2 separate regions of the Homo sapiens genome follow, and region 1 is linked to region 2. A link means that fine-mapping ties the variant in region 2 to the expression of a gene that starts in the linked region. Tissue or cell type: lung. Region 2 holds a variant in brackets; the other region holds the start of a gene. All regions are shown on one strand. Distances are from middle to middle.

Evidence for each region. PIP is the estimated chance that this variant, and not a neighbour inherited with it, causes the effect.
Region 1: it holds the start of CNPY4, and the variant in region 2 is fine-mapped to the expression of CNPY4 in lung (TOPMed, PIP above 0.99). The same link has a PIP of 0.9 or more in breast, gastroesophageal junction, skeletal muscle, subcutaneous fat, transverse colon and visceral fat.

Annotation. Positions count from the first base shown.
Region 1 is chr7:100,116,328-100,124,414 of GRCh38, reverse strand. CNPY4 (canopy FGF signaling regulator 4) reads right to left here and starts at 4,781. Exons shown (of 6, transcript NM_152755.2): 1 at 4,553-4,781; 2 at 2,030-2,156; 3 at 1,838-1,934; 4 at 1,509-1,631. The coding sequence starts at 4,670. It overlaps TAF6 (TATA-box binding protein associated factor 6), which reads left to right and starts at 5,057. Exons shown (of 15, transcript NM_139315.3): 1 at 5,057-5,211. RefSeq lists enhancers at 4,085-4,154, 4,525-4,744, 4,955-5,104.
Region 2 is chr7:100,143,299-100,151,399 of GRCh38, reverse strand. LAMTOR4 (late endosomal/lysosomal adaptor, MAPK and MTOR activator 4) reads right to left here and starts at 2,482. Exons shown (of 4, transcript NM_001008395.4): 1 at 2,425-2,482; 2 at 1,821-1,901. The coding sequence starts at 2,427. RefSeq lists silencers at 1,913-2,002, 2,013-2,102 and enhancers at 1,642-2,254, 2,403-2,512, 2,783-2,842, 2,867-3,479. The variant A/C (reference allele first, on the strand shown) is at 3,438.

The DNA of each region.
Region 1 (8,087 bases), 27 kb after region 2:
GGTAGCCAGGAAGCTAAGTTTGGCCTACTAGATGTGCAATCCTCATTCATTCAACAAACATTTACCAGCACCTATTCTGCCAAGTAGATTATTAAACTCTTGAGTCTCAGCTCCTTGCCTGTAAAATATGTATGGTAATTGCACCTACCACATCAGGCTGTTAAGGGTAAAATGAGGCTACAGATGCAAAGTATCTGGTCCAGAGTCTGGGACACAGTAGGTGCTCAATAAGTGATGGTGGATATCATTAGCAACCATTGTTACTTTTTTTTTTTTTTGAGATGGAGTCTCGCTCTGTCACCCAGGCTGGACTGCAGTGGTGGGATCTCAGCTCACTGCAACCTCCGCCTCCCGGGTTCAAGTGATTCTCCTGCCTCAGCTTCCTGAGTAGCTGGGACTACAGATGCATGCCACCACACCACCACGCCCGGCTAATTCTTGTATTTTTAGTAGAGACAGGGTTTCACTATGATGGCCCGGCTGGTCTTGAACCCCTGATGTCGTGATCCGCCTGTCTCGCCCTCCCAAAGTGCTGGGATTACATACGTGAGCCATCGCACCTGGCCCATTATTACTTTTTAAAAATTTTCCTTAAGGCAGGGCCCAATGGCTCATGCCTGTAATCCCAGCACTTTGGGAGGCCAAGGCGGGTGGATCACCTGAGGTCAGGAGTTCGACCAGCCTGGCCAACATGATGAAACCCCGTCTCTACTAAAATTACAAAAAATTAGCTGGGCGTGGTGGCAGGGGCCTGTAATCCCAGCTACTCGGGAGGCTGAAGCAGGAGAATGGCTTGAACCCGGGAGGCGGAGGTCGCGGTGAGCCGAGATGGTGCCGGTGCACTCCAGCCTGGGCAATAAGAGTGAAACTCCGTCTTGAAAAAAAAAATTCTTTAAAATTATTATTATTTGTAGAGAAGGGGGTCTCTTATGTTGCACAAGCTGGTCTCTAACTCTGGTCTCAAACAGTCCTTCTCCCTCAGACTCACTAAGTGCTAGCATTACAGTTGTGAGCCACTCCACCCGGCTCATTATGATTTCTTTTTTTTTGTTTTTGTTTTTGTTTTTTTTTTTAAGATGGAGTCTTGCTCTGTCGCCCTGGCTGGAGTGCAATGGTGCGATCTTGGCTCATGGCAACCTCCACCTCCTGGATTCAAGCAATTCTCTTGCCTCAGCCTCCCAAGTAGCTGGGATCACAGGCGTGCACCACCACGCCCAGCTAACTTTTGTGTTTTTATTAAAGACGGGGTTTTGCCTTGTTGGCCAGGCTGGTCTCGAACTTATGACCTCAGGTGATCCACCTGCCTCAGCCTCCCAAATTGCTGGGATTACAGGTGTGAGCCACCGCACCCCACCGCTCCTGGACCCACTTTAATCAATGGCACAGTCCTCACTCTGGCCCCTTCCCCATGCTTAGGGGTAGACATCCCCTATAGTCAAACCCTAGAACCTAGCTCCCCTCTCAGGTTCCCTTCTCACCTCCCTGGATGGTGCAGTGTCTTATCCTACCTGCTTCTTGAGGTATGTGACCTCCACGCTGGGCTCATCCCAAAGCTCCAGAGGGATCCCCAGATCCACCTTCACCCCCTTCTGCACTAGGCCTTTCAGTGTTGCCATGGTCTGACTCTGACCCTGAGAGATTAAGAATTTGGCATCAGCCCAGCTCACCACCCCACCCCTCCCTTCCCCTTTCTGCCATTTCAGTTTTGTCAACTACTGGAGATTCAAGGGTGAGTTCCATGATGGTGAGATGATGGGCAGATAACCTCTGGAGGGCCTCAGGGGATACAGATCTTTGTATCTGAGAAGTGGGGTCCTGCCCTGGGGAAGGGTCTGACCTTGGCATATCTCAGTGAGCCCTTGCGCTCAGCGTGAACACTATAGTCCAGGATCCGCTCACATAAATTCTCTAAGGCCTCTTCCAGCCTTGTCTCTCTGTGGAAAGAGAGGAAACAAAGATTCCCTGGATGCTGTAGGAACTCCCAGGGCTCCGTTGGGGGTTGGAAAGGGGAGGAGCACGAAGGACTCACGAAACGCTGTAAGGCACGTGTCTCTTCCTCTTGCCTGTATCCAGCACCTGCCCCAGCTCCAGCACCTCTCGAGATCGACCGGTGCGACTCAGTTCCGCCTGTAGCTCTGTGCTCAGCAGCTTACACACTGGTGGGGAGGAGAAACGTCCGGGGGGAGGTAAAAGACAAACACACCAGCCATTCATTCTGCAGATGACCTGAGGCAGCAGAGCATACAAGTGCAGACTATGGAGCCAGACTGGCTGGGTTGGAATCCTGGCTCAGCCATTTAGCAGCTGTGTGGCAATCTTCCTGCTTGCTGTGCCTCGGTTTCTTCATCTTTTTTTTTTTTTTTTTCAGACGGACTCTCGCTCTGTCGCCCAGGCTGTAGTGCAGTGGCGCAGTCTCGGCTCACTGCCAGCTCCGCCTCCTGGGTTCACGCCATTCTCCTGCCTCAGTCTCCCGAGTAGCTGGGACTACAGGCACCCACCACCACGCCCGGCTAATTTTTTGTATTTTTAGTAGAGACAGGGTTTCACCGTGTTAGCCAGGATGGTCTCGATCAGCTGACCTTGTGATCCGCCCGCCTTGGCCTCCCAAAGTACTGGGATTACAGGCGTGAGCCACCACGCCCGGCCGGTTTCTTCATCTTTATAATGGGATAATAGGCCAGGAGTGGTGGCTCACACCTGTAATCCCAGCACTTTGGGAGGCTGAGGCGGGCAGATCACTTGAGGAGTTCAAGACCAGCCTGGCCCACATGGTGAAACCCCATCTCTATTAAAAATACAAAAACTAGCCAGGTGTGGTGGTGCGCACCTGTAATAGCTACTCGGGAAGCTGAGGCAGGAGAATCACTCGAACCCAGGAGGTGGAGGTTGCAGTGAGCTGAGATCCCACCACTGCACCCCAGCCCAGGCAACAAAGGGAGACTCCATCTTAAAAAAAGTAAAATACATTAAAAATAAATAGGCCAGCACAGTGACTCATGCCTGTAATCCCAACACTTTGGGAGGCTGAGGTGGGTGGATCACGAGGTCAAGAGATTGAGACCATCCTGGCCAACATAGTGAAACCTTGTCTCTACTAAAAATACAAAAATTAGCTGGGCATGGTGGCGGGCGCCTGTAATCCCAGCTACTTGGGAGGCTGAGGCAGGAGAATCGCTTGAACCCGGGAGGCGGAGGTTGCAGTGAGCGAGATTGCACCACTGCACTCCAGCCTGGGCAACGGCATGAGACGCTGTCTGAAAAGAGAAAAAAAAAAAAAAAAAAAAAAAAAAAAAAAAAATATATATATATATATATATATATATAAAATTAATACAATTGGATAATAATAGTATGTCCCTCATAGGAGTGTGATGAAGATTAAATAAATCAACATATATAAAGGCTGGCACATAGTGAGCACTGTATAAGTATTCACTGTTATCCTGCAGTTATTTATTGAGCTCCTTCTGTATGCATACTAACAATATAGACAGCAATAAGACCTATTATCTCTATCTACAGGTCTCTGTCAGTGTAGTTGGGACAGATAAACCAAGGATGACAAGCTGTGGTGAAGCTGGGCCTGAACTCATGGGCTCAAGTGATCCTCCCACCTTGGCCTTCCAAAGTGCTGGGATTACAGATGTGAGCCACTGTGCCCAGGCCCGTTGGCTGTATTCTGATAGAAGGCCTGCAGAGGTGTTAAAGCAAGGACTGATACAATTAGGTGATTAAGTCTGTTTAAAAAGATTGACAGGTCAGGGGAGAAGAGCGGCACACGGAGGTGAAAGGAGACAGAGATGAGGACCAAGTCATGAGACTGTCATGACTGCCTTTCATGATACTGGAATACAGTTGAGGGGGTGAAGCGAAGAGAAAAGGAATCCAGGGAAGAAACGTAAAGTCAGGAGGGCAGCAAACTAGGGCATCAGGGCCAGCCCCCTTTCTCAACTGGGCCCCACGCTAGTGCAGCTATGGAAGGCGCTGCTTGCTGAAAAATCCATATAGTACGCACCGTCTGCAAAGTCTCACCGGATGGGGACACTCTCCTAGTTGTGTGGCTTCCTTTTGTTTATGAGCTTCAAAGGCTGAATTACTCACCCTCAAACCCCCTCAGCGGGGTGTGGGGCCTGTAATTTGGGAGCGTCTATGCTAGGGTAGGGCAGCGGATGTCCACAAGGCCTGAGCCTCACACCCGGCTCCTGCAGCCTCTGCAGATTAAGGTCTGGTGACATGAGGTAAACACTCACTGAAGATGCTCTAAAAGTTGGCAGTCCCGGGCCGATGGTCCCTGAACTACAATTCCCACAATCCATTGGCGGGCGGGGGGTTCCAAGCCAGCCAAAAAAATGCAGGCTCTCTCTGGATGCAGTTTGAGGTGGCACTACACGTTCGCTTCCTTGACCCCATCCAAATTCAGCCAAGCTCCACCAGAACCTCCCTCAAGCCTTCAAGGAGGTCGGGTGACCCACCCAATACAGGCTAGGATGTCCGGCCTAGAAGAAGGAGGTGTGGCCGGGCGATGCCTATAGGGGCTACCCCCTTCAAATACCTTCGCATTTGCTGGGCAAGCGTTCTGTGTCATCGTCCTCCTCCTTCAACATCCCAGCCCAAGCCTCGTGCACGGCCAAAAAAAGGAAAAGCAATATTCCCAACCGCACAGGTCCCATGACAAAGCGCCGTCTACAAACAATCACCGCTTGCCTTCAACTTCGGGAAGGTAGTGTGGGTCCCTTAAATTCCCAGGCGGCTAGCGGCAACCTTAAATCCAGCCGAGGAAGGTCGGCGCATGCGCAGGATCAGCCCAACAAGGGTGGGGCCTCGTTGCTACGGGTTTCCCTGCCTCCGTTTTGTGGCGCCTCTTGAAGGTCCTGGCAGCCGGGTAGTGAAGGAATAAATTGCAGTAATTACACCAAGAGGGAGTGCTCCTTATATATAGATGTAGAAACAAACTTTTAAAATATAATTTCATTCTGCGAGCCTAGAGGACTTATTCTGGTACGGGGAAGGGGCAGTGACTTGCTCTTAGGCTCTGCCAGGACCTGCTCCCACGAGGGGGCGGGGCCAAGATGGCGCCGAGCGCCGGGTGAGCAGCGTCTCGGCTGCCGCTAGAGTTTTCCTGCTCCCCGCGCTCGGGTGGCGGGGGCGGGTCTGAGTGGTACCCCGGAGGAGACCCTTTGAAGGTCCCTTGTGGGGACTGGAAAGAGGACGGTTGGTTGTGTGTCTGTGCTCGTGGGGACCCCGTGTGTGTGCCTGCATTGGAGAGATGTTGCAGGAGATGGGGTGGGCTCTCTGAACCTCCTTTCGCGCTGCCCGGGGATCTTCGACCTGCTTCTCTGCTGGGATCTCGCTTAAGTTAACCCTTCCCTGGGACGCCTTCCTGCCGCCTCCACTGATCTGAGGAGATCCTGTGACTGTAGCGTGTTTTATGAGCCTTTACTGGCAGAGGGTACCGCCGGGTATTGAAGGATTCGTAGGAGTTCGCCAGGGAAGTGGGACACGACCCCCTCTTGTAAACCCGGCGCCAGGCACAGAGTATGTCTCGAATAGTTGTGTTCCCTATAGATAAGACTTATAAAAGTCGGGGAGGAGATCAGGGATGGTTTGAAAAGAACCAATTTGTTTTTCGGCCTCCCTCTTCCCATCCTTCCAGCACGGCCCCACCCTACCTGTACTACTCCTAAGCAGTATTGATATGTTAATCTTCCTAATGTCCAACTGCAAGTGTGCCACTTTAATTTTTTTTTGTTTTTTTTTTGAGACAGGGTTTCCGTCTGTTACCCAGGCTGTTGTGCAGTGGCACCATCTTGGCTCACTGCAGCCTCCAACTCCTCAGTTCAAGCGATCCTCCTGCCTCAGCCTCCTAAGTAGCTGGGATGACAGGTTCACACCACCAGGTCCGTCTAATTTTTTAATTTTTGCAGAAATGGGGGTCTCACTATGTTGACCAGGCTGTCTCAAACTCCTGGCCTCAAACAATCCCCCCACCTCTGCCTTCCAAAGTGCTGGGATTACTGGGGTGAGTTACCTCTCTTGGCTCCAATTTGCTTTTTTTTTTTTTTTGAGATGGAGTCTCTCTCTATCGCCCAGGCTGGAGTGCAGTGGCACGATCTCGGTTCACTGCAACCTCCGCTTCCTGGTTCAAGCGGTTCTCCCACCTCAGCCTCCCAGATAGCTGGGACTACAGGCGCCCGCCACCATGTCTGGTTAATTTTTGTGTTTTTACAAAAAGACAGGGTTTCACCATGTTGGCCAGGGTGGTCTCGAACTCCTAACCTCAGGTGATCTTCCCGCCTTGGCCTCCCAAATTACAGGCGTGAGCCACTGCACCTGGCTCCACTTTGCTTTTTTTGTTTTTTTTTTTTTTTTGAGACAGAGTCTGGCTCTGTTGCCCAGGCTGGAGTGCAGTGGTGCGATCTCGGCTCACTGCAAGCTCCGCCTCCCGGGCTCACGCCATTCTCCTGCCTCAGCAGCCTCCCGAGTAGCAGGGACTATAGGTGCCTGCCACCATGCCTGGCTAATTTTTTCTATTTTTTAGTAGAGACGAGGTTTCACCTTGTTAGCCAGGATGGTCTCAATCTCCTGACCTAGTGATCCGCCCGCCTCGGCCTCCCAAAGTGCTGGGATTACAGGCGTGAGCCACCACGGCCGGCCCAGTTTGCTTTTAACTACAGTGTAGGCTCAAAGCTTGGGCCTATGACCTATTAATAATAGTGATACCAAGTATTTACTGAGCACCAATATCTCTAAGCCTTACAACTAATTCATTTACTTCACAAATATTTATGATGTCCCAGGCTGGGCTCCTGGAATACATCAGTGAACATAATAAAGAGCTCTGTCGGCCGGGCACAGTGGCTCACGCCTGTAATCCCAGCACTTTGGGAGGCCAGGGTGGGTGGAACACCTGAGGTCAGGAGTTCAAGACCAGCCTGAGCAACATGGTGAAACCCCATCTCTACTAAAAATACAAAAATTAGCCAGGTGTGGTGGCGCATGCCTGTAATCCCAGCTACGCAGGAGGCTGAGACAGGAGAATTGCTTGAATCTGGGAGGCGGAGGTTGCAGTGAGCCAAGATCGCGCCATTGCTCTCCAGCCTGGACAACAAGAGTGAAACTCTAGCTCAAAAAAAAAAAAAAAAAAAAAGAGCCCTGTCTAGATGGTGGACGGAGACGGGGTCTCACTCTGTTGCCAGGCTGGAGTGCAGTGGCACAACCTCTACTCACTGCAACCTCCACCTCCTGGGTTCAAGCAATTCTCCTGCCTCAGCCTCCCGAGTATCTGGGACTACAGGTGCACATCACCACGCCCAGCTAATTTTTGTATTTTTAGTAGAGATGGGGTTTAACCATGTTGGCCAGGATGGTCTCGATCTCTTGACCTCGTGATCTGCCCACCTCGGCCTCCCAAAGTGTTGGGATTACAGGCGTGAGCCACTGCGCCATGCCCAAAAGATGTTAAATGCTATGGAAAAGAAAAAGTGGGCTGCCCCCACTCTGAGGGCAGAGTGCAGAGTTAAATAGGGTGGTCAGGGTAGGCAGCCAATTAGATATTTGGGAAGAACATTCCAGGCAGAGGGAATGCAGCAAAGGCTATTAAGCAAGTACATACCTGGCAAGTTTAAGGAGCAGCCAGAAGGAATGTATGTGTCTGGATCAAAGTGGAAGAAGGAAGGGCGTTCAGAGATATAATGGGGAGAAGGTAATTTTGAAGGGCTTTGTAGGACATTATAAGGATTTCGTCTGTTTTTTTTGTTGTTGTTGTTGTTGTTTTTGAGAAGAAGTCTTGCTTTGTTGCCCAGGCTGGAGTGCAATGACACAGATCTTTGCTCACTGCAACCTCCGCCTCCCGGGTTCGAGTGATTCTTCTGCCTCAGCCTCCCGAGTAGCTGTGATTACAGGTGCCCGCCACCATGCCCATCTAATTTTTTTATTTTTAGTAGAGATAGGGTTTCACCATGTTGGCCAGGCTGGTCTTGAACTCCTGCCCTCAAGTGATCCGCCCACCTTCGTCTCCCAAAGTGCTAGGATTACAGGCGTGAGCCACTGTGCCTGGCCTGAGATGGGGTTTTGCTATGTTGCCCAGG
Region 2 (8,101 bases):
ACAAAAACAAAAACAAAAAAACAGGCCGGGTGCAGTGGCTTATGCCTGTAATCCCAGCACTTTGGGTGGGAGGCTGAGGCGGGCAAATCATGAGGTCAGGAGTTCGAGACCAGCCCGGCCAACATGGTGAAACCCTCTCTCTACTAAAAATACAAAAATTAGCTGGGCATGGTGGTGCACACCTGTAATCCTAGCTAATCAGGAGGCTGAGGCAGGAAAATCACTTGAACCCGGAAGACGGAGGTTGCAGTGAGCTGAGATCATGCCACTGCACTCCAGCCTGGGCCACAGAGCGAGACTCTGTCTCAAAAAACAAAAACAAAAAAAAACAAAAACAAAACTCTTCTCTCCTTGCTCCTCCTTCTTACCACCACTTGCCCAGTCTCATCTCTTTTTTTTTTTGTTTTTTTTGAGACGGAGTCTTGCTCTGTCGCCCAGGCTGGAGTACAGTGGTGTGATCTCGGCTAACTGCAACCTCCACCTTCCAGGTTCACGCCATTCTACTGCCTCAGCTTCCCGAGTAGCTGGGACTACAAGTGCCCGCCACCAGGCCTGGCTAATTTTGTTTTTGTATTTTTAGTACAGACGGGGTTTCACCGTGTTGGCCAGGATGGTCTCGATCTCCTGACCTCGTGATCCGCCCGCCTTGGCCTCCCAAAGTGCTAGAATTACAGGCATGAACCACCACGCCCAGCCCAGTCTCATCTCTTAATGACGCCTCCTTCTGCCCATCTTCACATCACTAACAACAATATTGCTCAACCACCTCACTGGGTCTTGTTTCTGTTTTAAAAAACCTTTCAAACTGTATTACCTTCAAGAATAAGTTCAAGTGTGTTAACCTGGCCTTGAAGATCCTTCACAATTACATCCTCCCTGACCATATCCTCCTCTCTTCCCTCAAACCTTCCCAAATCTTTTCAGCATAAACTTACCATCAGTTCAGATAGGTTAGTGCCACACACCTGCAAATAAGTCCTCCCCCACTGTAAATACTCTCCTTTAAGGTGGGCTGAATTCCTACCTCCCGGAAAGTTAGTTACCTTGTCATAACATGTTGAATTTTTAATATCCTGGATTCCCTCAATAGTCTTTACCACCTGTATTGTTTTCAACCCTTAACCTTAAGCTTTGTCTCTACCTAAGTCAAAAACATCTGGAGACTTAACACTATACAGTACTATGGAACAAAATACAAATGCCTCTTTAAGAAATACCAAATAAAGGCCAGACGTGGTGGCTCACGCCTGTAATCTAGAGACCTAACACCATACAGTACTATGGAACAAAATACAAATGCCTTTTTAAGAAATACCAAATAAAGGCCAGGCATGTTGGCTCACGCCTGTAATCCCAGCACTTTGGGAGGCTGAGGCAGGTGGATCACCTGAGGTCAGGAGTTTGAGACCAGCCTGGCTAACACGGTGAAACCCCGTTTCTACTAAAAATACAAAAAATTAGCAGAGCATGGTGGCACGTGCCTATAATCCCAGCTACTCGGGAGGCTGAGGCAGGAGAATCGCTTGAACCCCGGAGGCGGAGGTTGCAGTGAGCCGAGGTCGCACCACTGCACTCCAGCTTGGGCAACAAGAACGAAACTCAGTCTCAAAAACTATAAATAAATAAATCGCAGCCGTTAGGAGACTAAGATTCCACAGACTGATTACTGAAAGTAATTGCAAAAACTGCAAATACTTTTGTACCAACCTAATAGATGCCAGGCAGGAAACCAGATAAAAGCCGAGAAAAGAAGGGCCAATATTAGAAGGGGTTACCGGGCTGTGTGCACTAAGGGACCCCCTCCCTTTCCCAGAACGCACCGCCAGCACTGCACCTTCACTCAGTACCAGGTAGCCGAGCTGGTCTGGGATTCGCTCCAGCCCCTGGGTCAGCGCAGAAGTCTAGTGGGTAAAGATGCAAGTCGTGAGAAGCATGCTAGAGGGATGGACGGCCCGATACCCTTCACCTGCAAACCCAAGTCTCTGGGTTGACGATGGCCCCAGGTTTTCTCATTCCCCAGCCAGGTCCCTTCCCGGCCCCCTCCCCCCTACATGGTCCTCAATACTGATCTTCCCGAGCCTCCATCTGCCCCCACTCTCGCCCCCGGGCTCCCCTGGCCTTCCACATCCCACCTTTGCTACCCCAAGGGGCCTTTGCTGCCCCACTGGCCCCTGCCCCCAGACCCTCTCTTCACCTCCCTTCGTCTCCGCCCGACCTGCAGACTACCCGCAGCCCCAGAACACCCTCCCACAGACCCCTCCCCAGCATTCTCGTCGCCATCCCTCCCATTTCCATCCCCTCTTCCTCCCCGAGCGGATAGGAGGTGAGGGTGGAGCGCAGGCCCACCAGGGGGAAACCACACAGACTGGGGAGCAGAGACGCTGAACCCCCGGCGGGTCCTCTCGCGCATGCGTCCTCACTCACCATCGCAGTCTTCGGTGCTGGGGGAGCTCCCTACCAGATAGGTAGCTTCCGGCTTCAGGCCCCGGTCACGTGCTTGCAGCCGCTGCGCTCCTCCTTCTGCTTGCGCCACTGGCCTTTAGCCCCGCCTCTAGCATGAGGATTGGACAGTGGCCACGTCGTCAGACCCAACCAGCCAGTGCGAAGCGCTGTTTCCCGGAGGCGCACGTTGATTGGTGATATCCCCTCTTTAACACCCATCTCCCCGCCCCTCAGTGCCTGAGCGAGAGGAAGACGCGGGAGCGTCCGAGGAGGGGAGGATCTGGGAGGGGCGGGAGTAGGCCGGGGTTGACCGTTTGGTCCTGGGCGCACTGTCTGGAGCCAGAGTTCCGCCTGAGCCAGGATGCCCGCTGGTGTGACCCCCCCAAATGAATCCCTTCCCAGGTTTAAGACTGGACCCAAAAACTAGAGAATAAAAGGAAATAACGTGCAATGCATGTGAAAAACTATTCAAGGCTGGGCGCCGTGGCTCACGCCTGTAATCTCAGCGCTTTGCGAGGCCGAGGACGGATCATTTCAGGGCAAGAGTTCGAGACGAGCCTGAGCAACATAGCGAGACCCTCCCCAGTCCCCCCGCTCCAACCACCTCTACAAAAAAATAAGAAAATAAGCCGGGCATGGTGCCTCACGCCAGTAATTCCAGCTACTAGGGAGGCTGATGGAGGAGAATCTCTTGAGCTCAGCAGTTGCAGAGTGCAGTGAGCTATTATGGTGCCACTGCACTCCAGCCTGGGTGCCCTTCCTCTAAAAAAAAAAGAAAAGAAAAGGAAAAAAAAGGTACTCAAATGCTACTTTTTTTTTTTTTTGAGTCGGAGTCTCACTCGGTCGCCCAGGTTGCAGTGCAATGGCGCGATCTCTGGCTCAATACAACTTCCGCCTCCCGTGTTCAAGCAATTCTCCTGCCTCAGCCTCGCGAGTAGCTGGGATTACAGGCGCCCACCACCACGCCCGGCTATTTTTGTGTTTTTAGTAGAGAT[A/C]GGGTTTCACCATATTGGCCAGGCTGGTCTCAAACTCCTGACCTCGTGATCCGCCCGCCTCGGCCTCCCAAAGTGCTGGGATTACAGGCTTGAGCCACCGCGTCCGGCCCTCAAATGCTACTTTTGTGCCTACTCAAGACAGCTCTTTGTTGAAGACAAGAATTTGTTCCCGAAGTGGTTTTTTTGTCCCCAGATTCAGTCCGGGACAATGTGGTGGTAAATAGAATCCCCAGCTAGCCAATGCAGCTGCAATACTGAATATTCATTCCCTACAGGAAAAAATTAGAAACAGTACCTTGGAATGATACACACACACACACACACACACACACACACACACATCACACAATATATGTAAACATTAGAAATTTTTGTTTTAAATAATTTCTAAACCTGTTGCCATATTAATGTGGTGGAGGCTGTGTTAGTGAAATAATATGAAGAATGATTCTAGAAGCCTGGGCAACATAGCAAGACCCCATCTCTAAAAATTTAAAAATTAACCAGGCATGATACTGCACATGTAGTCCCAGCTACCCGGGAGGCTGAGGTGGGAGAATCGCTTGAGCCCAGGAGGTTGAGGCTGCAGTGAGCCATGATCATGCTACTGCACTCAAGACTGGGTAAAAGAGCAAGATTGTCTCAAAAAGCAACAAAAAAATCTGAATATAATAACAATTGTTAAAGTCTGGGTGTCTTTTAAGACTTGTTAGAAACAGCAATTTCAAGGCTGGGCGTGGTAGCTCACACCTGTAATCCCAGCACTTTGGGAGACCAAGGCGGGTGGATCACCTGAAGTCAGGAGTTCGAGACCTGCCTGGCCAACATGGTGAAACCTCATCACTACTAAAAATACAAAACAAACAAACAAAAAAAAAAAAAACTAGGTGGGTGTGGTGGTGCATGCCTGTAATCCCAGCTACTGGGGAGGCTGAGGCAGGAGAATCCTTGAATCCAGGAGGCGAAGGTTGCAATGAGCTGAGATTGTGCCATTGCACTCCAACCTGGGCAACAAGAATGAAACTCCGTCTCAAAAGAAAAAAAAAAGATTTTGATGTAATAAATTATGGTGGCAGTATTCTTGATATTTAACCATCTTTGTGTTTCTGGAATAAAATCTGCTGGAACAAATTATACTACCCATTTGTTTTACTGCTTTATTTAGAATTTTTAAAATCTATTATGATAAATGAGATTGGGCTGTAGTTTCTTTTTGGTATATTCTTTATCTGCTTTTGGTAGAAAGAGCAGGTTGCCAGATAAAATGAATCAGAGAGTTTCCTATCTTTTTTATCTATGGTCTGCAAATCAAACTGGTTGGACCAACTCACACTCCTCTAGCAATGTGTCAGAGTTCCCAGTTATCTCCAGCTCCATTAACACATGGTATTGCCACACTTTTTGTTTTTTGTTTTTTTTTTGAGACAGTCTTGTTCTGTTGCCCAGGCTGGAGTGCAGTGGCGCAATCTCAGCTCACTGCAACCTCCACCTCCTGGTTCCCGGGTTCAAGCAATTCTTCTGCCTCAGCCTCCCGAGTAGCTGGGACTACAGGAGCGCACCACCACACCCAGCTAATTTTTGTATTTTTAGTAGAGATGGGTTTCACCATGTTGGCCAGGATAGTCTTGATCTCTTGACCTCGTGATCTGCCTGCATCAGCCTCCCAAAGTGTTGGGATTACAGGCCTGAGCCACCATGCCCAGCCAGTATTGCCACACTTTTAGGGTAAAGTTTTTGGATATGCGATGGCTTCTCATTGTAGTTTTTATTTGCATTTACCTAAATATTAATGAGGTTGATCACATTTTCAGACAGGTTTGGCTTTTGGGATATCATCTTTTGTGAAGTATCAGTTCAACTTTTTTTTTTTTTTGAGACAGAGTCTTGCTATGTTGCCCAGGCTGGAGTGCAATGGTGCGCTCTTGGCTCACTGCAACCTCCGCCTCCTGGATTCAAGCAATTCCCTTGCCTCAGCCTCCCAAGTAGCTGGGACTACAGGGGCACGTTGCCATCCCGGCTTTTTTTTTTGTATTTTTAGTAGAGACGGGGTTTCACCGTGTTGCCCAGGCTGGTCTTGAACTCCTGAGCTCAGAGCAATCCACCTGCCTCGGCCTCCCAAAGTGCTACGATTACAGGCATGAGCCACTGCAACTGGCTTATTTATTTATTTTTTTTTTGAGATAGTCTTCCTCTGTTGCCCAGGCTAGAGAGCGGTGGTGCGATCTCGGCCCACTGCAACCTCCACCTCCCAGGTTCAAGCAATCCTCCTGCCTCAGCCTCCCGAGTAGCTGGGATTACAGGCACGCACCACCAGGCACGACTAATTTTTTTGGGTTTTTAGTAGAAAGGGGGTTTCACCATGTTGACCATGTTGGCCAGGCTGGTCTCAAACTCCTGACCTTAAGTGATCTACCCACCTCGGCCTCCCAAAGTGCTGGGATTACAGGCATGAGCCACCATGCCGGCCCAGTTCAACTCTTTTCTCATTTTTCTATTGAGTTTGTCTCTCTCTTTTTTTTTTTTTTTTTTTCCCGCCCAGGCTGGCTAGAGTGCAGTGGCGTGATCTCAGCTCACTGCAAACTCCTCCTCCCGGGTTCACATCATTCTCCTGCCTCAGCCTCCCGAGTAGTTGGGACTACAGGCGTCTGCCACCACGCCCGGCTAATTTTTTAGCTCAGGAGTTTGAGACCAGCCTGGCCAACGTGGCCTGTTGTGGGAAGTCAGGGACCCCAAACGGAGGGATTGGCTGAAGCCATGGCAGAAGAACGTGGATTGTGAAGATTTCATGGACATTTATTAGTTCCCCAAATTAATACTTTTATAATTTCTTACGCCTGTCTTTACTGCAATCTCTGAATGTAAATTGTGAAGATTTCATGGACGCTTATCACTTCCCCAATCAATACCCTTGTGATTTCCTATGCCTGTCTTTAATCTCTTAATCCCGTCATTTTGGTAAGCTGAGGAGGATGTATGTCACCTCAGGACCCTGTGATGATTGTGTTAACACAAATTGTTTGTAGAGGATGTGTGTTTGAACAATATGAAATCTGGGCACCTTGAAAAAAGAACAGGATAACAGCAATGTTCAGGGAACAAGAGAGATAACCTTAAACTCTGACTGCCGGTGAGCCGGGTGGAACAGTGCCATATTTCTCTTCTTTCAAAAGCAAATGGGAGAAATATTGCTGAATTCTTTTTCTCAGCAAGGAGCATCCCTGAGAAAGAGAGTGTGTCCCTGAGGGTAGGCCTCTGAAATGGCCGCTTTGTGGGGCGGCCGTCTTTCATGGTCGAAGCTGTAGGGATGAAATAAGCCCCAGTCTCCCGTAGCGCTCCCAGGCTTATTAGGACGAAGAAATTCCCGCCTAATAAATTTTGGTCAGACCAGTTGTCTGCTCAAACCTGTCTCCTGATAAGATGTTATCAATGACAATGCGTGCCCGAAACTTCATTAGCAATTTTAATTTGTCCCGTCTTGTGGTCCTGTGATCTCGCCCTGCCTCCATTTACCTTGTGATATCTTATTACCTTGTGAAGCATGTGATCTCTGTGACCCACACCCTATTCGTACACTCCCTCCCCTTTTGAAAAAATCACTAATAAAAACTTGCTGGTTTTTATTAGTCATCACGGAACCTGCCGACATGTGATGTCTTCCCTGGACACCCAGCTTTAAAATTTCTCTTTTTTGTACTCTGTCCCTTTATTTCTCAGACCGGCCGACTCTTAGGGAATATAGAAAAGAAGCTATGTGAAATATTGGGGGTGAATTTCCCCCGATAGCGGCCAAATCCTGTCTCTACTAAAAATTCAAAAATTGGCTGCACATATTGGCAGGCACCTGTAATCCCAGCTACTCGGGAGGCTCAGGCCTTGAACCTGGGAGACAGAGGTTGCAGTGAGCCAAGATCGCACTACTGCACTCCAGCCCGGATGATAGAGCGAGACTCAGTCTCAAAAAAAAAAAAAAGGAAAAAGTAATAATAAAACCACAGAATGAAGTTAAAGATAACTTTAGGCTGGGCGCAGTGGTTTACGCCTGTAATCTCAGCACTTTGGGAGGCCGAGGCAGGCGGATCACGAGGTCAGGTGTTAAAGACCAGCCTGGCCAACACTTTGAAACCCCGTCTCTACTAAAAATATAAAAATTAGCCAGGCGTGGTGGCATGTGCCTGTAATCCCAGCTACTCAGGTGGCTGAGGCAGGAGAATCGCTTGAATCCGGGAGGTGGAGGTTGCAGTGAATGGAGATCACACCACTGCACTCCAGCCTGGACAACAGAATGTGACTCCTTCTCAAAGAATAGACAAATAAATAAATAAATAAAAAGATAACTTTATTGGTGACTAGGGTTGTGTCAAAAGAACTCAAAGGCCAACTTGAAGAGGCTTCCACTGGACAAAAAAAAAAAAAGAATATTTTGAAATCAATCAGGACAATAACTGCAGTGAATTGAAACATAACAAACATGCCTAAATCCACAAACTTATTTTTAAATTTTTGTTTGTTATTGTTTGTTACAGAGATGAGGTCTCGCTATGTTGCCCAGGCTGCTCTTGAACTCCTGGTCTCAAGTGATCTGTGCCTCAGCCTTGCACAGTGCTGGAATTTCAGGTGTGAGCTGCACTGCCCGGCCACTGAGATCTTAAAATTGGACTTTCATT